Linked DNA regions of Homo sapiens. The protein of the gene in region 6 interacts with the protein of the main gene of each other region in a pairwise test. Each region holds a gene or a part of one and is shown on either strand. Other genes may lie near its edges. The genes, in order: TOM1L2, SLC22A2, EPN3, KIR3DL3, USP13, LAPTM5 and EPN1.

Region 1 (3,812 bases), on a different chromosome or scaffold from region 6:
GGAGTGTGGCACATATTCAGCTGGATCTGCTGAGCTGAGGCAAGCCTGGGCTGATGCAGGTGTGTCAGGAGTGAGGTCTGGGAACTAGGGAGAGGCCACTCAGGACTCCTCACTGGGGCTGGGCCAAGGGTACTTTTCTCAGCTTCAAGAGCAGGCTGGTGTAGTTACATGGAGACAAGTTGTTTCCCGGTCTATTTCCTGCAAAAAGCTGCAAGCTCCAGGGACCACAGCTCATGCACCTCTGTGCCCCTAGGACTGTGTTTTGTGTCAGGCCTGGAACAGGTCTCCACCCACCCTCACCCCCATAAGAGCCGATGGCTTTGGAGTAGGAAGGGGGCACAATAAGCAGCAACTTGGGACCAGGACAGGGCCTTCACAGGCGGCAAGCATGTGCCAGCAGCAGGGTAGAAGGTGTAGCACTTGGGGACCAAGACTGACAACGGAGGGCCAGACACAAATGGCAGTATCAGCAGCAGCAGCAGGTGTATCATGAGAAACTCATGCCAGGTTGCTAAATCAGTCTGGCTCCTGACCTGTTCCCTCAAGCATCTTGCCTCCCATTGAAAAGTGTGTGGGGCCTTGCAGTTCACAGCATCCTTCTTCCACCCTCCAGAAGGTCACTGCTTCTAAGGGCAGTACCACTGACATTTTCTGCAAATGCCAGGGTCATCTGAGGCTGGGTGTGGTGGAGATCTGGGCACTGGCTCTGGACCTGGCTGCCCTGGGAAACAGGCCTGAGGTGGGGGCCTTGACCCTGGTTTCAGGGGTAGACTGCAGGCCGCCCACTCCTGGACCCCATTCTGCCATGCCCCCAGATCCATGGGCTGTCCAGAGGCGGGGAGGCCAGTTTGCAATGGCAAACCACAATATGCCTGGGAATCCTCAGTGTTAGGGAAAAGCATGGGAGCATCACACTTCATCTCAGTCTCAGGACACCTTGGGGGTGAGGTGCCACTACAAGGGCTCCTGTGCACAGTCAAGGTTGAACAGGCCCTCCTGCAAAATGTGATGTTGAGGGACCAAAATACAGAAATAGTACAAGCTCAACTACATTTAAAATAAACCTACAAAAAAGTCAGAAAGAAAATACATCAAAGCACCTACAGTGGTTATTTACAGATGCTTGGGTCAAAGAAAGTTATTTTCTTTTCTGTGCTTTCTTTTTCTTTCTGTGAGCATGTATTCTACAACTGGCATTTTATAATCAGGAAAAAAATGTTATTAAGGAAAATAAAAAAGACAGACAGTGGTACTGGCCTCTGCCTGTCCGTAGGCAACGTGAGGCTGCATGTGTGCTCACATGGACTATCAACAACAGGGCCACTGGACCTGTCCCGCCTTGCCGCTGTGTCCCCGGGTGGGATCCTCCAACAGTGTACGGTGGAAGAGCTGCCACCACAGGCCAAGTGCTTCTGAAAGATGACTCACCTGCAGCAACTCCAGATCAGATGAATCCTCCTGTCCAGGGACCATTTCTGTTAACATCTCAGACATGACTTTTGTGTTTCCTCGAACGACGTCCAGTTCACTCCGCAGCCTGGCAATCTGGTGGGGGCCACGAGGAAGGAAAGCAGGAAGGAAAGGTCAGTCAGCCTGCACTTGCAATATCAGAATCAGCTTGCTCCTAGTCTAGTGACAATCCTTCTCACTGGGAGATCTGGGTTGCCTTTCTGAGTGCACACTGCAGAGGCCACCTTCTCATCTCCCTCTGGCCTGCCTGTCAGCTCTGAGAGAGCTGAATGGGCCCTGCCACCAACAGTCTGTTGTGCCTCTCTGACTGTGACACGAAAGCAGTACCACGTAGTGAAGGGCTCCGTGTCAGGAGTGCACCAAGCTGGCTCTCCGTCTCGGCTCTCCCACCACGGGAACTTGAGTAGAAGCTGAACCTCTCAGGGCTTCCGTTCCTGCTCTTTAAAATCCAAGTGCAGGAGGGCAGGAGCTCTGAGATCCCTTCAGAGCTGAGATCCTATTCTACAAAGCTCTGAGTTATAGACTCTGCTCCTAGGAGTTTTACATCTAAACACTAGGATCCCTCTGAGAGGCTGGGCAGTGTCAATAGCACTTTTCTGCTGCGGCAAGAATGAGAGAACAGGGGAAGACGACAGGGGAGACACCTTCCCCACCCAGCTCCCTACATGGTAACACAGCCCCTTGAAAAATACCCAAGTTGCCCATCAGCGATCCCAAAGCCTGGACCTGGGCCAAGGCCCAAGGCTCCTCTCCAGCAACAGAGACATCATACACTTTCTCCCCTTGCCCTCAGTCCTGTGCCTCAGATCTGCCCCTTCACTCCCTCAACCCCCTCGAAGGATCTGCAGAAACCACAGGGACCTTCCTTGCCCACAGTGAAATATCATAGAAGAATCTGCATAGAGGTGGCTACTGGTCCCATCACTCAGTGACAAGAGACCAAATAACGCTGGACAGAGGTCAAGAACTGCACAGGACACTGGAGGGAGCCCTGGAAGACTCAGCAGCAACATCCAGAGCCGGACCTGAGCCTCTCTGAGCCTTCGTTTCCTCACCTACAGAAAGGTGGCACTAACCTCACCAGGCTGCTGTGAGTTTCCCATGCGGCGCCTGGCATGCAGGTATGCTCTCTACTACACACATACGGCCCTTGTTCCTGCTCAAAGGTCCAGAGAGAGGAACTGTAATGTCATTCTTCCTGCACTGTGACCCAGCTTAAGTGACAACTTCTCTCCCCAGTGAAGCCTTTTCTGACTCTCCCCACCCCATCCTGAGGTAGAAGCAACCACTCCCGCCTCCTCAGGTTCCCACTCGCTGTGCCATCTTCCACTATTGCAGCTGTAGCAGCCTCTCCTGTGTGGGTGGGCTCTCTCAGCAGACCTTTAGCTTCTTAGGGCAGGAACTCAGCTGGGTTGAGCTTTATACCCTCAGCACAGAGACAGGGACAGGAGACCTCAATCAATGGTCTACCAGGGAGATGGTCTGGGTCCTGAGAGGCTCTTGTTAGCCTCTGGCTCTGCCTGGTGGATGATCCAGGGGTTTTCTTCAAAGTCTTGGTAGAGAGAAGAGGTTTCTGGCTAGGAAGGCCCAGGAAGGCTATGGGCAGCCACCCAGTAGACTCTGAAGCCCTGGGTCCTCTTGGCCAGGCTGGGTGCTGACCTGCCTACCTCTGCTTGCATTCTGCTCTCCAAGGGGCAACATGCCTCAGGGCTCCTGTGCTACCTATGCCCAGACCCTGCAGACCCAGCATCTTCTGGCTACTAGGAGGGCCTTCCCAAGCACCTCCCACACTTTGAGTCGGTGAAGGGGCTCAGTAACTGTCCAACTTCAAACATTTTCTGCCTTCCCTCAGAGCAGGAAGGGCACAGTTCTGCCCATAGAAGCAGGGCCAAAAGCCAGAGACCTTCTTTCCCACAGCACTTGGGTAGCCACAATGAGGACCTCTTCCATCTGCCTGTCAAGCCCACAGCTGCCTGGTGGGGTAACAAATCACTTGTTCTACTGATGGGAGACCGGGGTTAAATGTCCTGACTGAAGCCTAGAGTGAGCAGCAGAGCTGGGGGCTCACACCCAGGCCCTGGGGGCTTCAAGTTCACTCCTCCTGCTCTCACCGTACTCCCTGCTCAGAGCTAGCAGGGAAGTGTGAGGAACACGACACAACACTGCCATCCCTACACACACATTGCTATCCCTACACACACATTGCTTGACCCCTCTGCTTCAGTGAGGTTCCACAGTCATGACATTGTCGCAAATAGTAAATAAGGATTTGGTAAATATAAACATTGGAGAGTTTTTTTTTCCCCCAAGTCTGACCAATTCTCAAATTGTAACTAATTGAA
Region 2 (4,319 bases), on a different chromosome or scaffold from region 6:
GCCTTCATTCAGAATGAAGACCCACAGATACAGGGAAAACTGGATGGCAGTATAGAACTGTAGTTGGACAAAAAGGGCAGCAGCCCATGTTCGCAGGCTGAGGGGAAAACCCAGCAAGGCCTGTCTGTTCAGATCCGTCTTGGCCCCTCTGTGCAGCACTCCTTCCTCCAGGCACCGGGGACAAGACTCCTCTGGAATGCGGGTCTGGATTTCTTTACGGCCCACTGTTACACAGAAAGGCAGCGGGGAAGTTACAGTGGTATTTCTAGGCTTTCTGGCTGGCTTTGGGGAGAAAAGAGTCTGGTTTCCACGAGCTGCTTTGAGGAAGAAGGATTCTCAGTTCTATGGCTTGCCCCGGGGGAGAATGATGGGTGAGAGAAGAGACAGGAGGGCAGGAGAAGGTCAGAGAGAGAGACTTTGCTTCTGAGGCCTCCACCTTGGGGCATGGATTTCTGAGCCCCAACAGACCTTGACAGAAAAATCTAGGACACAAAGATAGTGGCTTGGACACACCTGCCTGCATTTACACTTGACCTGTCTGCGACGTAAACACTTTCCTCTTTCCCTCCAGATGGGTTAAGGGGAAGGACACTTCAGGGTTGAAACGCAGGAATACCAGATTGGAGCAAACACTTTTTAAAAGCAGAGTTATAAAATCTGGACAACATCAAAACAAGCAGCCCCAGCATGCATCCCGACGGCTCTTGTTGTTGGTTGGAGAATGAGCCCAGCAGTCAGGCTTGCAACCCACTTCGAATCTGGACCAGGGTTCTGACACGGATCCTGGTTCACATCACGCTGGGCCTTGTGGCCAAACACGTGTGTTTTCTCCATAGGGCCTTGAAGAAAAGCTGGCGGTGCGCATGAGATAGGAGTATATTAAGTTCCTGGCTGCTCGGGGCACTACGGGAAGATTACTGGGCTGTGATATGGGCCAGCACTCAGATTCCCTGCGGTGGGACACAGAGGGCGGGTTGTTTGTGCTGCTGGCGTGGAGCACCGACAAGCCTGTGGAGAACCAGTTATAATAAACACGACAGGCATCCTGGGAGTGAGCTCAGGGCATTTGGGAAGTGCAGAAGGACATGCACCCCCGCTGGAGGGGTGCACCTTTGAAGTCAGCTGGACCAAGGAAAGGCCCTGCCCTGAAGGCTGGTCACTTGCAGAGGTAAACTCCCCTCTTTGACTTCTGGCCAGGGTTTGTGCTGAGCTGGCTGCAGCCGCTCTCAGCCTCGCTCCGGGCACGTCGGGCAGCCTCGGGCCCTCCTGCCTGCAGGATCATGCCCACCACCGTGGACGATGTCCTGGAGCATGGAGGGGAGTTTCACTTTTTCCAGAAGCAAATGTTTTTCCTCTTGGCTCTGCTCTCGGCTACCTTCGCGCCCATCTACGTGGGCATCGTCTTCCTGGGCTTCACCCCTGACCACCGCTGCCGGAGCCCCGGAGTGGCCGAGCTGAGTCTGCGCTGCGGCTGGAGTCCTGCAGAGGAACTGAACTACACGGTGCCGGGCCCAGGACCTGCGGGCGAAGCCTCCCCAAGACAGTGTAGGCGCTACGAGGTGGACTGGAACCAGAGCACCTTCGACTGCGTGGACCCCCTGGCCAGCCTGGACACCAACAGGAGCCGCCTGCCACTGGGCCCCTGCCGGGACGGCTGGGTGTACGAGACGCCTGGCTCGTCCATCGTCACCGAGGTAAGAGAGTGAGCTCAGGGCTCAGATGGAGAAGCAAATGGTGGAGATTTTCTCAAGGAAGCAAGCAGGGAAGGCCCGGCTCTTATAAACCCTGCCTGGACATCTCTTTGGCCTGCATGTATCTTACAAAATCCTAGTTTCCAAATGAGAACATGCAGCTTCTAATTTGTCTGGAGAATAACTGGATTAGTTAAAACGTCCTCAGATGCTGACAATAATGATTCTAGTTTGTGCATGTCCCAGCAATAAGGAACAGGCCAAAGCATATTAGGACTCCTGGAAATGTTGCCAAGATAGGGATATTGTGGATCCTCCTCTTTTTCTGGAAGCCTTACCTCCCCCTCTATTCCTCCATCCCGCAGATGCCCACACACACCTGAAAGCCCGTGGAACTCAACTGAACTGTGCCTGACTGTGTGATAGGATGTGCTTTTCTCTCGATACCTATTTTTTCTCTTTAATTTCCTCAAAGTGTTCATATAAAATCATTTGGGGCTGGAGATCATGCTATGGCACTATTATTTTGTTAAAAACTACAGATGACATCAAAAGCTATTTGTGAAGCCTGATTCCAATAAATATAATAGAAAAAAAGACAAAAAATGGAGCTTGCTTTTATTGAAAGCAAAGCAAAATAGGGGAATTAAGTTACCTGAAAATACTGAGAGAGCCAGTTGCCTAGTTTAATTTAAAATGACTGCTTGGACAATGGGAAGATATTCTGTGTGAACAGATGGGTAGGTAGAGTCTAATTTGAAGGGTCTAAAGTGGTCAGATATTTACAGGAAATGTGGCAGCTCATGGGCTTCACACCACAAACTCTCCGAGGCTCTCTCACATGGCCAATCTCATTGCTTCCTACAGAGATGAGGAAACTGAGGCCCCAAGCAGAGAAGGTTTTTCCCCAGGCCACACAGTGAATAACTTAGCAGGGTTAGCCCTAAAAGATGGGTCTCCTGACCTGGTCCAGCACCTGCTCCACCCGACCACCTCCTCTTATTCCAAATAAGAGCAAATGCAGCAGCCTTCAGCAGTCACTCCTAATCCCCTTTTATTAAACAGACAGCAGGGAGATGCTAAATGGCCCAACCTCCTGGTGCCTGCATTGTATCACGTCCACACACCTATCTGCATGTGCATTGAAATTAGAAAGGAAAAAATAAATTTGTCTATAAGTAATTACCCAGTTTCAGCTGATTTAGCCAATGCTGTAGTTTTAGCTTCATGACAAATTGCCAGATGGAAGGGCAAGCCTTTTGGTTATGTAAAGAAAACTGAGGCTGGGCACAGTGGCTCACGCCTATAATGCCAGCATTTTGGGAGGCTGAGGTGTGAGGATCACATGAGCCCAGGAGGTCGAGGCTGCAGTGAGCCATGATCACCACTGTACTCCAGCCTGGGTGACAGAGCAAGACCCTGTCTCACAAAAAAAAAAAAAAAAGAGAGAGAGAGAGAAGAAGAAGAAAATTGGCATGATCAAGAAACAATGGCTTATTGCCACTTAACTATACAGTTCAATTCAAGGAATATTTAATGAGTACCCTAGCTGAGTTATGTCCAACAGGATTCTAACAGGATTTCATTTCCTTTCTCTCCCAACTTGGAACACTTCTCCCCTGCTGGCAGTTTAACCTGGTATGTGCCAACTCCTGGATGTTGGACCTATTCCAGTCATCAGTGAATGTAGGATTCTTTATTGGCTCTATGAGTATCGGCTACATAGCAGACAGGTAGGTTGAATCACCTGTGGTGGAATTTAAACAATCCCAAAGGTTTGGAGAACACTTGGATGCACCTGCCCCTGCTTGAATCCCATCCTTTCCCAAGCACACAGACCACAATCTCCTGGCCTTCATGCTGGTGTTTTTACAATCTTAAATTTCTTCTGCTGCTTGGATAACCATGACCAATGTCTTTATTTTCAAATTCTCTGGGGTCATAGACAGATATTTCAACATTACACAGCAAATCTTCCATGGGGGCTATGCAGAAGCTTCAAGTCGGAAGGGAGAGTAACAGATGATCTCATCCCTTTTGTAATTCCCAATTCATTTTTTGGCCTCATCACCATCCACCTGGCCATCAGCCTTCAGGGCCTCTGAGCTCAATCCTATCCTCTGCTTGTCTCGCATATGCTGGGAGCCCCCAGCACCAGGCCCAATGTAGAATCTCCCTAATACCCGTGGGATTGCAAGAGTCCTGAATTGGGTTCCTGGGGCCATATATGACCATATATGTGGAAGCCATAACTTAAAGAAAGGGAAACAGGGTCTGCCTACAACACGAGGGGTAAATGTCCACCTCTGCAATATCATTGTCCCTGGAGAGATGACGAGAGGCCTCTCTGATGAGTCTTGTCTTCAGCAAGCTAGTAGTCAGTGTTTGTATGGATCAAGCTATTGCTATGTCTCTTACTTATCCAGCATTTTGGAATCCCACACTCACTGTGCTGCAAGTTTCCTACAACATGCAGCTTTGCTCTCTTGATGACCAATGAGACATTTTTAGAAGTCCTCAAAAGGAAAAGGAACCAAAAATTTGCTTCATAGTTGATAGGCACTTTAGATAACTTGGCCGTCAGGGCTAATTATTTAATATTCATAACACCGTTTATTGAGTGTTTTC
Region 3 (4,421 bases), on a different chromosome or scaffold from region 6:
GTGCTTCCCACAGAGTAAACTCTGCCTGTGATGTTGTCCCGTTCTTCCAGGTCCGTGGGCTGCTGGACACCCTGGTGACTGACCTGATGGTCCTGGCTGATGAGCTCAGCCCCATAAAGAATGTCGAGGAGGCTTTGCGCCTCTGCAGGTGACTCTCGGGCCCAAGCAACCTTCTGGAAAACGGGTTAATAAATAAATCAATAAAGAACCTTCAAGTTTCTACTACTTCCGTGTGCCTCTGTGTCTTGCATGATGGATCTTGGCTAGGTCAGCTCCTGATCCAGGTCCTCCCATGTTCCACCTGCCCTCAGATCCCCTCCTGCCAGCTGCCAGAGCCCTCCTGCAGGAGGACAGACAGACATAGCTGGGGAAGTGATGTGTGGGATGCCAAGCAGAGGAGCAGATTGGTAGCAAGACAAGGAGTCAGGTGACAGGACAGTGTGTCACCTCTGGTAGTCCCTGCCTCTGGCTTCCTTGGCCCACACTTTCAGGGTCGTGCTTCCTGGAGCCAGGTCTTCCCGAAGTGTCATCACCAAGTATGACAAAGTGTGAGATGAGGAGTAGAACTAGACCCATGGGACCTGGCTCCCTGCCATCTCCCCTCTTCAGCTGGGTCCCAGGGCCCCAATTCAGTCCCTGAAGATCATGCTCACCACACCTCTTCAGCTCTAGAGGCCACATCACCTTGTTATTTCGGGGTCTAGTCTGCCTTATCCCCCTCCTCATCTCAAACTATCTGGCCTTGAGCCATCTTTCTGCCTTAAAAACAGCTGCTGATCTTCATGCTACCTCCCTTGCTCAGGGGAACATGAAACAGGCTAGAAATGGCTCTCAGAAAAAAAGGTATTGTCAGCTCAAACTCAGGCCCCTCATTGTCTTCTGTCAGTCATAACCATTTGGGGCTGGGCTCCCTGTGTGAAGAGCACTCCAGGCTCCCAGAGTTTGAAGAACAACTTTGGTTTTTGGGTGGGTGGGCATCCTTAAGTGGGCCTCAGGCATCCTCCAGCTGAGATGCAGGAGGGGGAGGATGGACAGAAGGATCTGACTCCGTGTGGGAAAGGCAGGGAGGGGGCTGTGCTGGAGTCCTGATGCTCTCCTCCCCAAGAAGACGAGAAGACGGGGGCTCCACCAAAGAGCCAGCCCCAGGGAATGTCCCTGCCCTCTCCTTTAATGTCCTCCCGGCCCAGAGGAGGAAGGGGAGGGGTGTGGTGGGGGTGTTGGAGCCCCCCTCCTTTCCTGTTGAAGAGGCAGGGGAAGGGTTAACTCAAAGCAGAGGGGATCAGGTCGCCAGCACTGGCTCCAGATGTGCACTTCCTGGGGGCGGCCAACAGGCAGGCCCCCCACCTCTCAATGCACCACTTGCCTGGCCAGCAGGAAGGGGTTAACCTGCCCTGCACTTCCTCCTGTGTCCTGTTACTGCTGAGGCAGACCTGCCGGGCCAGCTGAGCAACTTTCCTCGGAGTGCTGCCTGGCGCTGGCTAGGAGGCAAACGCACGCGGGAAGAGCTGCTACCCATTCCAGGGACCCTGCCGCTGCCCCTCTGAGGGGTCTGCACCTCCTGGGAGCAGGTGGGTCTCTGGGACGAGGGTCCATGGTGGATGGCTCTGGAGACGCTCCCGAGGCTGTGCCGTCCCGCTGCTGCACAGGTCGGAGGGTCACCGCAGAGGCTACTCGGGCTGGGGCTGGGGCCGAGGGAGCCCGCACTGGAGGTAAGCTTCCTCCCTGGCCCCCTCCCTGGCAGTGGCGGCATGGAAGGCGGGGGTTGGTGGGGAGCAAACAGTGGTTCTGGGGCTTAGTCTCTTTTCCAGGTGCGAGGGAGAAGGCTGAGCTGTAGAGGACCTAAAGGCTTCTTTCCTGCCACCCCTCCCTCCCTGCCGCCCCCAAAAAGGGACTCAGGGCCCCCTCCCCAACCATCCTGGGACTTAGCATCTTTGGTGGCATCTTAGCATCTTTGGTGGCATTCCCCACAGACTCCTTCTGCACATCTCTGCTGTTTCCTCTTCTTCAGCCCCTCATGCACACCTCTAGCCTCAGGGCAGTCCCCCCTCCCCCATCTTCTGTGCTCCCGGGATGCAGCTATTACAGTGGCCAGAAGCTTAGAGTTCAAGCTCACCCCCTGTCCCTTACAGCATCAAGAAGGGCACTGTCATTCCCCACTGCTCAGGCTGGATCTGACTTGGAGGCAGGGGCTGGAGCCCACCTTAGCAGAGGACGGGAAGAGGGTGTGGGCTGGGCTGGTGGGTGCACAGACTTTACGCAAACTCATGCACGTGTGACTGGACAGATCTGGGTTCTCTCCATCTCTCCGAAACCCTTGCTGGGGATGAGCGATCTGCATTTTTCGGTCCTGACTTTTGGGAAACTCTCCAGATCCCCCCATCCTGCAGGCCCTGAGAAGAGCAGCCCCTCCCTACTGCGCAGTTCTCCTTGGGACCCTGTATGCAGGAGAGAGCTGATACTCCGTGCCCCGTGGCCCATCCCACCGCCTGCTGGCCCTGCTCCCATCCCCTCAGCTTCCTCCCTCCTCTGCCCTCTCGTCATCTCTGAATTCTCAGGCCCTGCCCTCTCTGTGCCCTTCCCTCCACCTGACAGGGTCTGGCTCAAGGTCACTGCAGTAATTCCATACCCAGCTGCCCAGGGCTGCTGCTGCTACCGCCACCGCCTTATCGGCCGCTGGGTTTCTGTTACACTCCCTTTTATTTCTGGGCATATCGTGTTCGATAAAACCCTTTGCTTGTAACACTGCTGGCAGCGCTCCCAGCTGCTCCCTCCCGCGTTCCCGCGTTCCTTCCTTTCCTCCTCCCTTCTCTGCGCTTGGGCAGGCTTCTTCCTTTCCTCCTCCCTTCTCTGCGCTTGGGCAGGCTTCTTCCTTTCCTCCTCCCTTCTCTGTGCTTGGGCAGCCTCACCTTGTCCCCTCAAACTCCAGAGAAGGAAAATCAAGGTGCCTCCCCATGTTTCTGGCCCCGCCCTTCCCCCCAGCCCCTGCAGGGGTGTGCAGAGAATGCCCACCTTCTGTGAGAAAGGTCCAGGCAGGGCCGCTGGGCCCACACCGAGAGTCCCCTCCCAGAGGCTGGTGCCCCCACACAGGCCAGGCCGGAGGGCCAGGGCAGCCAGGTCCAGGTAGGGCTCTGGTGCAGTCACAGTGCCCGACTGGTTCTGCTAGTTCCAGCGGCCAGCCGGTAGGGGCGTGTGCTGGGCGGGCTTTGGTGCACATTATTTCCCATCTTGACTCTGCCACCCCCAGCCACGGGTTGGGGAGGTGAAGGCAGGTCTGAGTCACTAGCAAGGGGGAGGGCAGGAGTTAAACAAGTTGTGGCCGTGGCATTCCCACAGAAGGCCCACGACCCGCTGGAAGGAAAGAGATAGCAGACAAAAGGTAGGCTGCGCTGTGGGCCAGGCACTCTCCACCTCGCCCACTCCCACGGTATCTTATTCTCTGGGCCCCCAACAAAACCTGCCAAGGCATGTTTTCAAAGCGTGGGGCTGCTTTGAACTGAGCCCAGCACTGGCGGGGCTGGGGTGGAAGGAGCGTGGAATCGGGTGCGAGAGGACAGTCTCCTTCAGATTCCTGCTTCTGGCAGCCTGGGGACCAGTTGGGGCACGGGCTGGGATGGAGGGTGGAGCCGAAAGGTGTTTGGTGGGTGGGGGACAGTTCACGGGTGAAGTGGAGGCTCTGCAGGCCCAGACAGTGTGTGTGTGCATGCACACACCAGTGCTAGTGTGGGAGGAATGGTGGTGGTCAGGGAATTCCTCTTTTGGTTTCTGAAAGGGCCTTTGGGAGGACCTTGGGCCTGGAGTTGTATTCAGCAGATAGCCTGGACCTGTGGCTACTGGGGGGAATTGGGCTGGCCCAGCTCTTCTCCCTGCTGGGGTACCAGAGGTCCACTATGTGTCCAGCGTTTTGGGGCTTTGGAGAACCCAGACTGTTCCTACTCTCAGGGAGCTTCCATTCTAGCTGAGAAGGTGGGACTGAGACAGTAAAGCAATCCGATGAAATAATGACCAAACTGGGTAACACTGACAATAAGAATTGGATTAGTCTTCTGGAGTCCTGGATGGTAGTCCAGGCTCTGCCACTTACGTGCCATATGATGCAGGCAGGTCCCATCCCCTCTCTGGCCTCAACACTTCCATGTGTACGTGGGGGTGGCATGCAGGAGTGTTGGCAGTGGCCAGAACTCTGAGGGGCAGTCTTCCTCAAACGATACTTGCTCTCTTGCCTTCTGGCCCAGGTCATAGCATTTCTTCTGAGCCGCCCTCCCCTGACTTGCTGGTTCACTCCTCCTTACTCTTCCCTTGTGATCTTGGATCTCAGCTCTGTCACCACCTCCTCTAGGAAGTCTCCCCTGATTTTCCTGGCTTGGGTCTTCCTGTGCGGCTCTGCACTCCCACACTGGACTGTGATTTTCTGTACCCTCTCA
Region 4 (3,812 bases), on a different chromosome or scaffold from region 6:
TTGGGTTTACACCCAGTCATGGAATTGCTAGATCCTCTGGAAGTGTCTTTTTACATTTTGTTTTATGGTTTTTGTTTTTGTTTTTGTTTTTTTTAGACTGTTTCACTCTTGTTGCCCAGGCTGGAGTGCAGTGGCGCCATCTGGGCTCACTGCAACCTCCACCTCCAGGATTCAAGAGATTCCCCAGCCTCAGCCTCCCAAGTAGCTGGGTTACTGGCTCCCACCACCACACTCGGCTAATTTTTATATTTTTAGTAGAGACAGAGTTTCGCTATATTGGCCAGGCTGCTCTTCAACTCCTGACCTCAAGTGACCTACCCACCTCGGCCTCCCAATGTGCTGGGATTACAGGCATGAACCACTGTGCCCGACCTCATTTTATTTTTTGAGGAACTTCCATACTCTTCTCCTCTGTAATGGCTGTACTAATTTACATTCGTATCAGCAGTGTACCAGATGCAACCCTGGTTGACTCAGCAGAGCAAGAGACGTGCAGTAAGAGAGAATTTAGCTTATTTATGCACACGACACTTCCACTCACTCACTCGTTCAGCCAATGCCCCATGCTCAGGCTGTGCAGTGTGGAATCTTTTCCTATTGTTGCCATAACAAATTTCCACAAGCTTCGTGGATGAAAACATGTTTTTCTTAATTATCTCACAGTGCTGTAACTCAGAAGTATGAACTGCATTTCACTGGGCTGATATCAAAGGGACAGTAAGGCTGGATTTCTTTTTAAGGTTCCAAGCAAGAATCTGCTCCTTAACGTTTCCCAGCTCCTAGAGGCTCCCACGTTCCTGGGCCCCTGGTCCCCTTCCTCCTTCCTCCTTCCTCAAAGCCCACAAAGGCTGGTCACGTCTCACATGGCATCATTCAGACTCTTCTTCTTTACCCACACCTTTTTCTCTGAATCCTGCTCTGCCTTCTTCCTCATCTTTTAAGGACTTTGGGATTCTATTGGGGTCACCAAGATAATCCATCTCAATCTCCCTAAAATCATCCAGCGTACCCTCTTTTTAAGTTCAGCTGATTAGCAACCGTAATGCCATCTGCAATCTTCATTCCTCCTTTCCTGTAAAATAACATATTCACAAGCTATGGAGGCTAAGACAGGGACATTTTGGGGGTGGGGCAGCATTCTCCTGCCTTCCACAAATGGTAAACAGGATGCATTTGGCCTCTGCTCTTGGGACGCTGATATTGCAGATGGGTAAATGCGAGGGCAGAGAATGAATGCACAAGGGTACCAATAAATGAATGATCCATTGGGAAGCATCTGTGCACCAAATCTGGGGTTTTTTGTGTGTGTGTGTGTTTTTTGTTTTCTTTTTTTTTTTGAGTAGAGTCTCTCTCTGTTCCACAGGCTGGAGTGCAGTAGCACAATCTCAGCTCATTGCAACCTCTGCCTCCTGGGTTCATGCAATTCTCCTGCCTCAGCCTACCGAGTAGCTGGGATTACAGCTGTGCGCCACCACACTCGGCTAATTTTTTTGGTATATTTTTTTAGTAGAAATGAGGTTTCACCATGTTGTGCAGGCTGTCTCAAACTCCCAATCTCAAGTGATCCCACCGCCTTAGCGTCCCTAAGTGCAAAGATTACAGGCGAGAGCTACTGCGCCCAGCCAGGATTTAAAATAAGTAATAGATAATGCTGAGTATATAATTTCAGGTGACAGAGAAGGTCTCACTGATCAGATAATATTTGTGACCTTAATGGAAAAAATGGATTCAACCCTTGGAAGATTGGCGGAAGGATTTTCCACACTGAGCTCTCAGCCGTGAAGGCACAAAGGTGGAAACATTCTTAGTTCAAGGAAGAGGCTCTGCCTCAAATGCTGGGAATGAGATGGGGAGAATGACAAGACAACTGTAGAGAGATGGAGAGCACACTGGGTACACAGGAAACTAAGGAGGAACAAGGAGCATGTTTTTGATACTCACAGCCCTTGGATTCAACTCAGAGCTAACTAGGAATCCCTACCTGATTAACAGTGACCGACATGAAAATAAGGGAGGCCCAGGTGCGTAACTGGAATCTAGGAGACCGTGGAAAAGGCAATTCCCGCCCCACTGGTGAAACGTAGGGTTGATTTACACACTAAATGAATGAAAGATGGATATAAGCTATGCTTGTGAGGTAGAATCATTTGCAGGGAGGGCTTGCTGGGTTTGATTTTTCCTAGTAGTTTAATCCTTGTTTCATTAATTTCTTTCTGAGATGTGTTTTTTTTCTACATCTAAATCAATACCTGGCAGAGGAGCGATAGACACATGAGGGGTGGTGCAAATGAAGGGACCTAGTATAATATAATATACAAGACTGTGGATGGGGGCTCACACCTGTAACCCAACACTTTGGGAGGCCAAGGCGGGTAGATCACTTAAGGGTAGGAGTTTGAGACCAGCCTGGCCAACATGGTGAAACCCCGTCTGTACTAAAAATACAAAAATTAGCCTGGTGCATTGGCACCTGCCTGTAATCCCAGCGACTGGGGAGGCTGAAGCAGAAGAATGGCTTCAACCCTGGAGGCAGAGGTTGAACTGAGATCGCATCACTGCACTCCAGCCTGACACAGGGGGACTCTGTCTCAAAAAATAAAAATAAAACATACATAATTATGACACACAGAAATTACAAAGGCAACTGGATACCAACCATCATTTTTCTATTTCTCTGTGTTTAATTCTTTGACCCTTTATCTTATCCATTAAACAATCAGGTTAAACCTCTTCCTTATTTGGCTTTCTGTGAGCTTGGGATCATATGGAAAATGTGAAAGCCTCCTGAACCCACCAGCACAGGTCCTGGAATAGAGAACGTGCTCTGTTCATGGCATAAAACTTGCCCCTTCACCCAAATCCCCCAATTCATCTCTACTTCCAATCACCTATGGAGATACAGATAGATCATGGGGAGGTAAACACTAATACTCTTTGGAGTGAGCTCAGATCTTGGACTCAGAGACCAGTGCCAGCACTAGCCCCTGGTCACATTTCGTACTAACTCACAGAAGGACAGGCTGTATTGAAACAATAAACGACGGAGAGGGCGGTCCTTCCCCGTGCTTCTCGGGTGGAATAGCAGCCTAATATATGTCTCAGCAGATCACAAAAAGTAGCATGTTGTTCCTGGGCTACATCATTATTTCATGGCTGTTTGATTTAAGTCAGTTCTACTTCACTTTTTTTATCTTGATTTCATTTTTTCTTTCTTTTCTTGGAGAATGTAATTTTTTTGAGTCAAGAGGGTTGTGGTGGTAGAAACTGTAAAGCACATTCGCTGTGTATCAATCCCAATCCAGTCTTCCCAGAGAAGATTCTAAACACCTCCTGGAATGCACCTGGGCCTATACCAATTCCTATCACTCACCGTCACTCCAGGGAGACAGAACACACAGAGAACACATTACACAGGCAGGTTCATTACTAACAGATAAGCAGCGAGTGACAACAGAAACCTACATTTCAATGTGAGCCAGTCCCTCAAGGCTCAGAAAAGCTGCTCGAGACATGTGGAGTCACCCCATATGCAGTGTATCTGGGGGAAATCAAAAAGCAGCCCAGCCTGGGTTTTGTACCCTGGAGCCACAGGAAGCACTCAGCTAAAGCACTGCATGACGTCCTCCTCCAGGAAGAACAGGAAGACAGCCCAGGCTGTTCTGGGATGTTCCTCCTGATCTCAGGACGTTGCTGTCTTAGTCCATTTTTGTTGCTCTAAAGGAACACTTGAGCCTGGGTAACTTCTAAAGACAAGAAATGTGTTTGCCTCACAGTTCTGCAGGCTGTACTGGAAGCATGGCACCAGCATCTAT
Region 5 (3,812 bases), on a different chromosome or scaffold from region 6:
CTCTTTCACAGCATATGAGCTATTTGCATTCATCAGTCACATGGGAACATCCACAATGAGTGGTCATTACATTTGCCATATCAAAAAGGAAGGAAGGTGAGTCATTTTTAGAAGGTAAATGTTAGCTGTGATTTATTGAGTACCTACTATATGCCAGGCACTCTCCTAGGTACATTGTATGTTATCTTATTTGGTTCTCACATTGGTCTTGTAAAGGGTATACTGTTAACGCCCTTTTGCACATCAAGACACCGAGACTCAGGGAGGCTGAATAGCTTGACCTTAGCTAGTAAGTAGCTGTGTGAGAGCTGATATTCAAAGCCACTTTCAACTATCATACCAAGGTGACCTCCCAAAATAAAGATGCATCCTGCAGCAGAATGTATGCTGTAATTGGAACCTCCCTAGGATTGCCATATTTAGCCAACAAAAGGAAACAAGACAGGAAAAACCAGGATGCCCTATTAAATTTGAATTTCAGATAAATAATGAATAATTTTTTAGTATAAATAAATTTCAAATATTCTATGTCCCAAATATTATATGGGGCATGCTTCTACTGAAATTTCTTATTGCTTACCTGATACTCAGATGTAACTGGGTAACCTGTGTTTTATCTGGCAGCTCTAAACCTTCAGTGCTTTGCCTTACTACAGCCTTGCAGTTGGCTTCTCAGCCTTCTTAAGTAGAATTGTTAAGTGTGTAGTGAACCGGAAATGAGACAGTTGTGGAATGAAAGGCTGCTGCTTTCTTCAGAACCTTCTCCCTGGGCTGGATCCCTACAGGACCTACTGGTGCCCTTCCTGCAACTCCAAACTGAGTAGCCTGTGGGTTGGCACTTCTGCTTGAGGGCAGTGCTCAGGCCATGTGGATGCTGGAGAAATGCCTGAGGGTGGCCTCTTGCTCCATGGCTCCCACTGCAGGAGTGGCCATTTCCCACCTGGACTCCATTGTGTTCTTCTGTGGTGTGTCTTTTTAGTTTTGTCTTCTTAACTTGGTAAAATAGTTGAGCACAGGAATTTATCTCTTTTTTTTGAGATGGAGTTTCACTCTTATTGCCCAGGCTGGAGTGCAATGGCACAATCTCAGCTCATTACAACCTCCGCCTCCCAAATTCAAGCAATTCTCCTGCCTCAGTCTCCCAAGTAGCTGGGATTACAGGCATGTGCTATCATGACTGGCTAGTTTTGTATTTTTAGTAGAGATGGGGTTTCACTATGTTGGTCAGGCTGGTCCCAAACTCCTGACCTCAAGTGATCCACCCGCCTTGGCCTCCCAAAGTGCTGAGATTACAGGTGTGAGTCACCGCACCCGGCTGGGACTTAATCTTTGTGGTGAATTGTTTTTATTACAAACACGATAGCGCTTTAAAAAACACTTTATGGAATGAAGTCAAAGAAAATAAAATAAAAATGCTTTTTAAAAGAAAAATAGCTTAATTATAATTTTAAAAGCAATAAAATTCATAGTAAATAATTTATAAATATAAAAATATACAAAGAATATGTACCCTGGAAGCCTAACAATAACCATTGTCTACATTTTGATATACTTTTCTTTGTTTTATTGTCTCACTGGAAGAAAGTATATATATGTCTATATGCACACATACTACATATAAATAAACACACGTATTTACAACTTAACTAAAAGCTTAAAGTATGTGCAGAGTGCATACAATTTTTTAACCAGTAATTTCCCATTTCATATTATATCATGGTTATTTTCTCACTTTGCCAAATATTCTTTGAAGAAATTTTAATAGTTCTATAATAGTTCACTGCATGGATTTTTTTAAAATTCTGGTTTTAAGCTAGTTTTATACTAAGACTGAAATAAGCATTGTTGTACATAATTCTTTGACTCAATTTCTCAGGCTATCTATGGATTTCTATAAAGGGAGTTATGGGATCAAAGGTTAAAATGTTTGGAGGTTCCTGATACATTTTAGTAACTACTTTTTGATGGAGCTTAAGAATCAAAAAGCAGTTGTAGCTGGGTATGATGGCATGTGCCTGTGTTCCCAGCTACTCCAGAGGCTGAAGCGAGAGGATCCCTTGAGCCCAGGAGTTCGAAGCTTCAGATTGTGCTACCTTACTCCAGCCTGGGGAATAGAATGAGGCCTTGTCTCTTAAAAAAAAAAAAAAAAAGCAGTTGTGATTCCCTACCAGCATTCTGTCCCTTTTTATACAACGAACTTGAGTATAGTACCTTAAAACATCATGGTTAAGTGTTGTGCGCCATATGATTTAGTGACTTCTTTGTGTAAAGTTTCCTGGAACTGACTTAAATCCATCAAATGCTTCTGTCTTATTTTCAGATGGGTGATTTACAATGACCACAAAGTTTGTGCCTCAGAAAGGCCCCCTAAAGACCTGGGCTACATGTACTTTTACCGCAGGATACCAAGCTAAACCTCAAATATAAAAATTGGCGAAAAGAAGCCATACGCCTTTTTAATTTGCCAAAAAAAAAAAGAAGAAGAAGAAGTTGAAACAACTAGACATGAAGGAATATATGGGGTATTTATCGTTTATTTAAAGAGCACGATCAGTTGACACCTTCTGAAATAGAACTGAGAAGAAATTTCTATTAGTGATGATACACTATTATATTGTAGATAGTTTTTATAAATGTTCAAAAAGATGATGATATTTAAAAACAAAAAAAGTATTCATATTGCTGGTGGAGGATCTGCCATCAGCACATCAAAAATGGGGATGTGCCCCCAGCCCTCTATTTTGCTTTGGGGGTCAGTGATAGTGGCCTCTGGAGAAACCAAATAATGTGGCCAGTGGTGTGGCCTTACCCACAACAAATGAAAAGCCCACTTGTGTTTCATATAGAAAATCAGCAGTTGGGTGGGGCTTTATTTGTGACATAATTTTTTTCATGACATACAATAATTTCTGATGTATCCATGTAGATATTATGCTCTGTCCATAATAGAGCCTCTGCAATGAAAGATATTTTTAATTTGTCACATTAAAATTCATAATACGATTGTGTGAATGTGTGTGAGACTGACTGAGAGTGTGAGACTTTTACTAGAAAAGTGAGTCCACTAGAAAATCTGTGACAAGTTGGTTTTTAAAGTCTGAACAGTTGATATTAAGCATATCTGAAAAAAGCAAGTAAATATTTTAACAAAACTATGACTCAGGAACCTTCGAGAAGATTAGTTCCCCACTTAGATTTTTAAGGAGTAAAAAGGGCTGAGTTATGCCTTTAAGTGCTGTCAAGAATTCACTTGGGTTTGGGACATTTGCTGGTGTAATGCTAGATGCCCACAGCAGCATAATATTGTACTTTGTCAAAGGTAGGTAAATTCTCTGTTTCTCAGCAGCCCTTTCCCCAAAAGGTATGGTGTTTATTTTTAGTAAAAATAGCTAATCTCTTTTTACCATCTCACATGATAACTCTTTGGAGTCATGTCAAGTGCCCCAAATTTGTCTGTGATTTTCCCATCTCTGAGCTCTTTATCTGCCTCCGTTTCCTTGTTTTTCTGGGGCCAGAGTCTCATCTCTGCCTTTTTTTGGTGTATCACCTTCTGACTTGCCTTCATTGCTTGTCTGATGTGACCAACAGTGTGATCTTGGACACACTAAGGATTTTAGATGCAAAGAAACTTTATACAACATTATGAAAGACTATCCTTTCCATTTTGGTTATTTCAGCATTTTAGTTGCAACCTGGGATTAGATTAGAGTTTCCAACGTGATGAAAAGTGGAATGATAGCATTCTATAATTTCCATAATTTTCCTACTGGTCCGTACCAAATTCTAGAGTCTCTGGAGTTGCTATTTCAGAG
Region 6 (3,812 bases):
GGGGCGATGATTTGGTGCTGGTTTGGAATGCGTCCACCCTGCCTCAAATGCCAGCACCCACTCCCCTTGCTAACACTCACTCTGTCTTGGAACCCATGCTGCCTGGGGAGGCCGTTTGCCTTGTGCAGGGTGGCTGTGGGTGCTTGTGCAGAAACTCAAAGGGTTCAGCTAGAGAAATGGAGAAATGGAGCAGGTGGTCCCTGAAGACTCTGAGATCAGTCAAGATTGTTCTGGTTGCCTCCTGAGTGATTTTAGACGACCACATGAGACACCAGGAAACCACTGTTGCAGTGATTTTGTCCCCAGCTGTGAGAGCATATGAATGAATACTGGTCATGGTGGTCACTTGCTTTCAATTGAAGAAGAGGGACTTCAGCCTCTTCCTGGCAGGGCCTCTTACTGTGACTTTGGACCCCTGGGAGTGGCTGGTGGAGGAAGGTCCAATTGTATGCGGGGCGTGGTGGGGAGTGGGGGGTGGGGGGGAGGGGCTCTCTGCTGCCTCCGGGCCTTCACTCATGTTGGTCTTTCTGCCTCCAGTGCCCCGCCCCTCCCTCCTGTTCACTCCTAGTCTCCTTCCCCGATCTAGCCCTGGTGTCCCCACCTCCAGCAAGTCCTCTCTGGTCCCCTCTCCTCTGTAAAAAGTGCACAAAGCCCTTCCTTGCTGGGTTCTTGTGAGCAAATTGAGTCAAATCCTGCTCTTTGAGCCCTGATAGATGGGGATGGTTCCCTTACGTCTCCTGGGACACCAAGACTCCTCTCATTCAGGGCCTGGGTCTTATCCACTCCCTGTCCCCAGAGTGTCACTCAGAGGGAGGTGACCTCAACTGAGGAGGGCAGGGAAGGTTTGGGAGAGGGTGGGAAGGGGATGCATGAGGATATCAGGCTGGGTGGCGGAGTGTTGGCTGCATGCAGGGGACACTTGACGGTGCTGGGCCTACCTTTCAGAACCGGGAGAAGTACCTGCTGCCCTTCCTGTCCCTGCAAATCATGGACTATCTCCTGTGCCTGCTCACCCTGCTGGGCTCCTACATTGAGCTGCCCGCCTACCTCAAGTTGGCCTCCCGGAGCCGTGCTGTGAGTACCCAGCCCCCACCTCTCACCGGACAGCAGAGCCCAGGTCTGGCATGGGAGATGGGAGGGGACCAGACACGGGCCCTGTGCTCAGGCTGGGGAGGGTAGGAGCCCTCTTCCTGGCTGGTGTCTTGACCCAGTCTCTGAGTCCCTCCACATTGCCCCAAGTTTCTTCCTCTGTGGAATGTACCTGCAATCACATCTCATCAGCCTGCCTTATGAGGGTTACATGAGGAACACACACATTGGGGGTGCAGCCCATGGTCAGCACTCAGTCAGTGCTGCTGGGAGTGAATTGACACCTGAGGAAAGGACATGTGCGCTTTTTAGCCCCCAGCCCCCAGTATTATTTCTTCTTTGGAACCAAGTTGAAGAAAGGAAGAGAAGGATGATTCATGCCAGTGAGCGCCCACTGTGGGGTGGCTTGAGGGCTGCTGCCAGTCAAGGACACAGTCTCCCAAACCTGCTTTTCTCACTCTCCCCAACTGTTGTCCTTGAAGAGACCGGGGGGCTACATCATGGAAGGGCCCTGGCCCGGGAGTCTGGAGACCTTGGTTCTAGTCTTGGGTCTGCCACCAGCTCTTGGTATGAACATCTGTGTGTTCATGTCTCTCTGTGCACAGGGGACGAGAGTCACTGATGTCTGTAGCTGAGACGGTCTCTCAAGTGAGGGCCTACTATGTGCCGCTCAGTAACTGGGACTTTAATTGCTGCTCCTCATTCCTCCTCCTTGTATTTGTCCTCCCCAGAGCTCCTCCAAGTTCCCCCTGATGACGCTGCAGCTGCTGGACTTCTGCCTGAGCATCCTGACCCTCTGCAGCTCCTACATGGAAGTGCCCACCTATCTCAACTTCAAGTCCATGAACCACATGGTGAGTCTGGGGCAGGGAACCATGCCCATTTGCTGGCTGTGTGGCCTTGAACAGGTTACTTCACGTCTCTGTGTGTCTGTGGTTTAGGCCAGGTTCCCTGGAGTTGGAGCTTGGGAGGAAGATTCTTGTGCTGGTGATTTATTGAGGGAGCCCTCTCAGGAAGAAACTTGTCAGGAGTGAGGAAGGCAGGTTCGAGAAAAGGAGGAAGCCAAGCAAAGAAGCAAAGATGTGGCTGTAGGAGCAGCCCTGCATGATCCCAGAGAGGGCTTTGGCATGTGAATTGCAACACAGACATAATATCAGTTTTTATTGTTGTCTAATGAATTATCTCTAAGCATCATGGCTTAAAGCAATAAACATTTATTATTTCACACAGCTTCTGAGGATCAGGAGCTTGGGAGTGGCTTAGCTGGGTTCTTCTGACTCAGGGACTCTGGTGGGGCTGCACCAGAGATGGTACCTGGGGCTGTGGACAACTGAGGGCTTGATTAGATCTGAAGGATGAACTCCTGGTGGCTCACTCACAGGGCGTGGGCTCTTTGCCTAATTCCTCATCCTGTGGACTTGTAGTAGTGCTGCTTGAGTGCTCTCCTGACATGGCTGCTGGCTTCCCCTGCGGGAGTGATGTAAGAGATAAGCAAGGAGGAAAGGCAGTGTCTTTTAAGACTTCTATCACTTCTGCCACATTCTGTTAGTTAGAAGTGCGTTGCTAAGTCCAGCCCACACTCAAGGGGAGAGGAAATAAACACCACCTTTAGAAGGGAGGCGTCTCAAAGAATGTGTGGTAATATTTGCAAATGACCACAGAGGCAGTCTCACCTAGGGCGAGTTCCCCTGCATCAGTCATTGGTTTCAAGCTGCCCCTAGGGGAGGGAATGTAACCTCCCAGGTATTAGTGGATTAGGTGGTCCCTGTCAGCCAAAATGATCTTGTAGAGAAGAGCATAGGTGTGGCCCATGGGCAGCTGACACCTGCCAGCTGGGGATGGGCCGGTGCGCCAGCCTGGGAAGCAGATCTGGAGATAGTAGCCACTTGGCTTTTCTTGGTTTGCCCGTCAGTGGGATGGGGCTGAAGGTAGCACCTGCTTCCTAAGGCTGCTGTGGCGGTCGACCAAGGTGACGGCTGTGCCACGCTGTGCTCGTGTGTGTGTGGAGGGTGGGATCATTATTCCCGGATGTGTGGGTGCTGTTGGAATTCCTTATGTCCAGAGACATTGATGTGGCCCCCAAATCTGTTGCAGAATTACCTCCCCAGCCAGGAGGATATGCCTCATAACCAGTTCATCAAGATGATGATCATCTTTTCCATCGCCTTCATCACTGTCCTTATCTTCAAGGTGAGTGGATCCCTGCCCTGCGGCTCTGGGAGGGGTGGTGAGGCTGTGCTGGGCCCAGGCCTGCCCATGCCAAGCTGTTAGAAGGCAGGGACATGTGTCCTCCATGCCTCCTCTCCTGCTTTTAGCTCCTTTCTCTTGCTTTCCCATGCCAGCTCCTCTGACTTTACTTGGGATCCTCCGAGACAGCCCATTTAGGGCATGTGAATCCGTAAAGGCCACCTGCGTTCAGATGTCTAATTCCAGCTGTCTGGAATTAGATTTGGACTGGCCTGCGTTTGAATCCAAGCCCCACTGTCACTAGCTGCGTGGTTGGTCTTCAGCAAGTCACTTCTCTCTGGGCCTCAGGGGCAGGAGTCTTGTTTTGCCTGTGTTACAGTTTTATGTAATTCAGGCATCAAAATGTACCTGAGATTATGTTAATAGAGGTTTGGTGATGAGAAGGCAGGAGGGGAATGGTCTCATTCTTCTCTGGGGTGGTCAGGCCCAGAGGATAGGGTCCAGCTTCAGGTCCCAGGTCTGAGTGATGGTGAAGC
Region 7 (3,812 bases), on a different chromosome or scaffold from region 6:
TGGCAACTTTGGGAATAAATGGCAATTCCCACGGGCTTGGCACTCCCAGATTCCCATCTGTGATTTCGTGTGTCCCCCAGAGCCCCTTCATCCAGGGACCCAGGGCTCAGGTCACATCTCTTTCTCGGGGGTGGCTGGCAACCAGCCCCTCTGTCTCAGAAGCCCTGATTTCCCTGACCCTCCCAGGTCAAGGGATGGCTGGGTTGAGGGTGGACTGTGCGAGGCCTGGCGGAGCTGTAGCCCACACAGGTCCAGGTGGTCGGGAGGCCACTCATGGCCAGACGCTTCCGGTGCAGGAGGCCTTGCTCTTGTGTTGAGGGGACACCAGGATGAGGTCAGAGAGTGCACTGGGGTTCAGGGAGGAGAAGAATCCTGAGAGATGGCACATGTGCAACACAGGTCACCGTCGCCATCGCCCGGGCCCACCGCAAGCATCACTAATCCATCCCTGCACTCCTGGAAAGCCGGGTCAGCCTCTGCCGGCTGAGCTGAGTGGACCACCAGGCGCCTCCTGGTTGTCCTCTGTGTGCTGTTTTCCTCTGTGTGCTCTTGTCCTGGGCTGGACCACACCTGGTGAGACTATCCGGGAGAATCCTCGGGCCGCCTTGTGAGGGGGGTGTTGCTGTCATCTCCAGGGCTAGGTGACAGCTTGTTGCAGGCCCCACAGCCAGGGCCTCAGGGATGGGGATCTGGCCATGTCTGTTTTAAGCCGAACAGGCTGTTCTTCCATGTGGAGTCTCCCTCCGTGATCCCCTGGGGTCAAGTCCTGACGGCTGGGTTCGCTCCCTCAGTGACTCCGACAGCTCTTGTCTCAGAGGTGCTGGGGTGAAGGCTGTGTGGGGCCAGGCCCCTGGGGTCAGACTTCTTGCCCCTTCTGCCCGGGGGACGCTCTGGGCTCAGGGTGGGGCCAGACAGCTACATCACAGGGACACTTGTTATGGGTCGGGGTCCAGGGAGCACCCAGCCAGTGGAGTGTTGGAGGCCACTGAGAGGGACATGACTGCGGTGTCCGAGCAGCGTCGTGGCCACCCTGTGTGCCCACTCCCTGGTGGACAGACCTACGTCACCTGGGGATTGCAGAGCAAAAGGAGTGCTGTTGGGGTGATGTGAGGTTGGGGTTCTGTTTCTTGCTGTGAATTGGGTCATGACCTGTGTCGGAGCGTTCTCTGGCCTCCACTTGCCCCTGCAGACCAGGGTGTCTGGAGGGTTGTCGGGGGCTTGATGGAGGAATTGCTGACCACACCATGCAGGAAGAGGTGGGTCCCAGGGACACAGGAACTTTGGGGTCAGCCGGTTCCAGATTCAGTTGCAGAGGAGCATCCCCCTTGCTTAGCCAGGGAGGGGAAGCCCTCTTCTCACACCCGGCCTGGGTATGTTGTGGGAGAGTCATTTCCCAGGAGGAAATGGGGACTGTTACCGGGGGAGGGGGTGCTGTCCCCAGGCAGCAGCAAGCGTCCCTTACGCTTGGGCTGTCCGAGACCCTGCTGCTCTAGGCGGTTGTGATGGGGGAGCCCCACAGGGCACAGAGAGCCAGCTGAAGGCGGCAGCTCTGGGTGGGATCACATGGAAAGGGGAGGCGAGCCGAGCCTCCCTCTTGCCAATCTTGGTCTCCCCACAGGGTCATAGCTCCTGGGCCCCTCACTTGTCAGACCCTCCATTCACCAAATTAAGGATAAGTTTCACGATTTCGCACTGCGGAGCCTGCACTCCCTTTCTCTTCAAAAAAGCTGAGGACGAAGATAAAATGATACAGTTGGATTAGTCCAGTGGAGGGGTTAAAGGTGTGAGGCTTTAATTCTCCCCACCATTTCCTCATTTGGCAAAACAGAGAAGACAGGATTGAAAAACAAGACAAAAACCCAGAGGCTTGCACATAAATTTGGGGCTTAACTACAGCATCTTCGGCATCTTCTTTTCCCTACAGTGCGAATTACAAAGTAGCACCACAGATCTCGTGTCTCCTACTTTATTCCTCTTTCTAGAATATTCCAGCCACCAAAGTGCTCAGCAGGAGCTGCTGTGTAGGAGTCCCCCATGAGGCCCAAGCACCTGAGCTTAGTGACATACACGGTTGAACGCTGGGAGAATGCTGGGAGCCTGCTGTTGTCCCCGATTGAGGGCTCCCCCCACTGTGTGTGTATCACTCTTTCTACAGCAGATGTGTCTCTCTCCCCACAGTGGGATGGCGAGCTTGTTAAATGGCCGTGAGGAAGACTTTATTCAGGACCATCGAGACAGGTACAGGTACCATCAGTGGATGGAAAATCACTAAGAGCAAACCTCAGGGGTCCGGGGGTTTTCGGCTAAACCCACCTAGCAGGATTCTTGCTGAAGGCAGGCCAGGGTGATCAGAGGTCACCTGGGGATGGTGGAGGCTGAAGAAGCCTATCAGATGTGAGGGTGGCGGGGGTTGGGGGGGATGGCGGCGGGGTTCATTTGCTGAAAGGATTTTACAAGGGCATGCACGGATGGGCCTAGGAGGAGGTTCAGATCCCTCAGGTTTGGCTAAGCAAGAGTCATGGTGGTGCTCCCGGCTGGCTCTCAGGAGCAGATGTGCTTCTGACCCGACGTCTTCCCCCAGAGAGGGCTGAAGTGGAAAAAACCCCAGAATTTCTCCCTGGGACAGGTGAAGCGATGGGGCGTGGGACATTCCTGGGTCTCGACTCTGTTCAGGGCCTAGGGGTTGGGTGGGGAAGGCACTTGAGGGAACCTTCCTGGAGCCCGTAGGAGCTTCATCCGAGCTCCTGGGTCACCCCGCCCACCAGAGTCCAGGCCCACCAGAGTCCCCTGCCACCTGTGCTCACCCTAGCCTTACCCCTCGCTCTACTCCCGCCCTCGCCCTATCCTCGCTCCTCGCCCTACGCTTGCCCCTCGCTCTGGAGCTGCGATGCCAGCCTCAGGGCTTTCAGTCCTGCCTTGATCTTTTTTTATACTGAAACTCAATTTTACACACACAAACCCACTCCCAGCCAGCCTCTGCCTTTTGCCTTTTCCTCATGTTCTCATTGAATAGGAAGAAATGCCCTTTTTTTTCCCCCCTAGAAGGAGTCTTGCTCTGTTGCCAGGCTGGAGTGCAGTGGCACGATCTCGGCTCACCGCAACCTCCACCTCCCGGGTTCAAGCGATTCTCCTGCCTCAGCCTCTCGAGTAGCTGGGATTACAGGTGCCCACCACCACGCCCAGCTAATTTTTTTTTGTATTTTTAGTACAGACGGGGTTTCACCATGTTAGGATGGTCTCGATCTCCTGACCTCGTGATCCGCCTGCCTCGGCCTCCCAAAGTGCTGGGATTACAGGCGTGAGCCACTGTAGCGGCCCCCACCCCATTTCATTTTTTATTTTTTTATTATACTTTAAGTTCTAGGGTACCTATGCACAACGCGCAGGTTTGTTACATATATATACATGTGCCATGTTGGTGTGCTGCACGCATTAACTCGTCATTTACATTAGGTATATCTCCTAATGCCTTCCCTCCCGCCTCCCCCAGGCCCTTAGTTTGTGCTGCTCTGCGTTGGTTTTCTGCGTGTGCTAAAAGGGGAGGGAGAGTTTCTGTGCCCATTCCCAGGCACCTTCTTGCAGCCGCAGGCATCTCCCCCACACGTGCTTCTAGCTTCCCGGGTGTGGCGTGAGCCATTGCGTCCGGCCAGAAATGTTTTATTTCTTGAGAACTTGTCTGTCTCTGTGATGACTGTGGGTTGTCCAGCTCATCCCTCAAGCGCCATCCTGCCAGGCCCTTCACTGTGGTGAGAAACCGGCCTACTCACATCACAGGTGCCCCTGGAGTTTCTCAAACTGCAGCCCAAGGATTG

Evidence for each region.
Region 1: the proteins of LAPTM5 (region 6) and TOM1L2 interact in a two-hybrid assay, tested with the Homo sapiens proteins (one large-scale study listed by BioGRID and IntAct).
Region 2: the proteins of LAPTM5 (region 6) and SLC22A2 interact in a protein complementation assay, tested with the Homo sapiens proteins (one large-scale study listed by BioGRID).
Region 3: the proteins of LAPTM5 (region 6) and EPN3 interact in a two-hybrid assay, tested with the Homo sapiens proteins (one large-scale study listed by BioGRID and IntAct).
Region 4: the proteins of LAPTM5 (region 6) and KIR3DL3 interact in a two-hybrid assay, tested with the Homo sapiens proteins (one large-scale study listed by BioGRID).
Region 5: the proteins of LAPTM5 (region 6) and USP13 interact in a two-hybrid assay, tested with the Homo sapiens proteins (one large-scale study listed by BioGRID and IntAct).
Region 7: the proteins of LAPTM5 (region 6) and EPN1 interact in a two-hybrid assay, tested with the Homo sapiens proteins (one large-scale study listed by BioGRID and IntAct).

Annotation. Positions count from the first base shown.
Region 1 is NC_000017.11:17,878,199-17,882,010, forward strand, and holds part of TOM1L2 (TOM1-like protein 2), read right to left. Parts: intron 1,546-3,812; coding exon 1,429-1,545; intron 1-1,428. UniProt on the Homo sapiens protein: Acts as a MYO6/Myosin VI adapter protein that targets myosin VI to endocytic structures. May also play a role in recruiting clathrin to endosomes. May regulate growth factor-induced mitogenic signaling.
Region 2 is NC_000006.12:160,255,719-160,260,037, reverse strand, and holds the start of SLC22A2 (solute carrier family 22 member 2), read left to right. Parts: upstream 1-1,216; 5' UTR 1,217-1,280; coding exon 1,281-1,694; intron 1,695-3,320; coding exon 3,321-3,424; intron 3,425-4,319. UniProt on the Homo sapiens protein: Electrogenic voltage-dependent transporter that mediates the transport of a variety of organic cations such as endogenous bioactive amines, cationic drugs and xenobiotics. Functions as a Na(+)-independent, bidirectional uniporter.
Region 3 is NC_000017.11:50,531,277-50,535,697, forward strand, and holds the start of EPN3 (epsin-3), read left to right. Parts: upstream 1-1,458; 5' UTR 1,459-1,709; intron 1,710-4,421.
Region 4 is NC_000019.10:54,730,933-54,734,744, forward strand, and holds part of KIR3DL3 (killer cell immunoglobulin-like receptor 3DL3 precursor), read left to right. Parts: intron 1-3,812.
Region 5 is NC_000003.12:179,781,728-179,785,539, forward strand, and holds part of USP13 (ubiquitin carboxyl-terminal hydrolase 13), read left to right. Parts: intron 1-11; coding exon 12-96; intron 97-2,320; coding exon 2,321-2,414; 3' UTR 2,415-3,812. UniProt on the Homo sapiens protein: Deubiquitinase that mediates deubiquitination of target proteins such as BECN1, MITF, SKP2 and USP10 and is involved in various processes such as autophagy, endoplasmic reticulum-associated degradation (ERAD), cell cycle progression or DNA damage response.
Region 6 is NC_000001.11:30,737,071-30,740,882, reverse strand, and holds part of LAPTM5 (lysosomal-associated transmembrane protein 5), read left to right. Parts: intron 1-945; coding exon 946-1,074; intron 1,075-1,650; exon of another isoform or gene 1,651-1,727; intron 1,728-1,820; coding exon 1,821-1,943; intron 1,944-3,183; coding exon 3,184-3,279; intron 3,280-3,812. UniProt on the Homo sapiens protein: May have a special functional role during embryogenesis and in adult hematopoietic cells.
Region 7 is NC_000019.10:55,695,726-55,699,537, forward strand, and holds part of EPN1 (epsin-1), read left to right. Parts: 3' UTR 1-3,812. UniProt on the Homo sapiens protein: Binds to membranes enriched in phosphatidylinositol 4,5-bisphosphate (PtdIns(4,5)P2). Modifies membrane curvature and facilitates the formation of clathrin-coated invaginations. Regulates receptor-mediated endocytosis.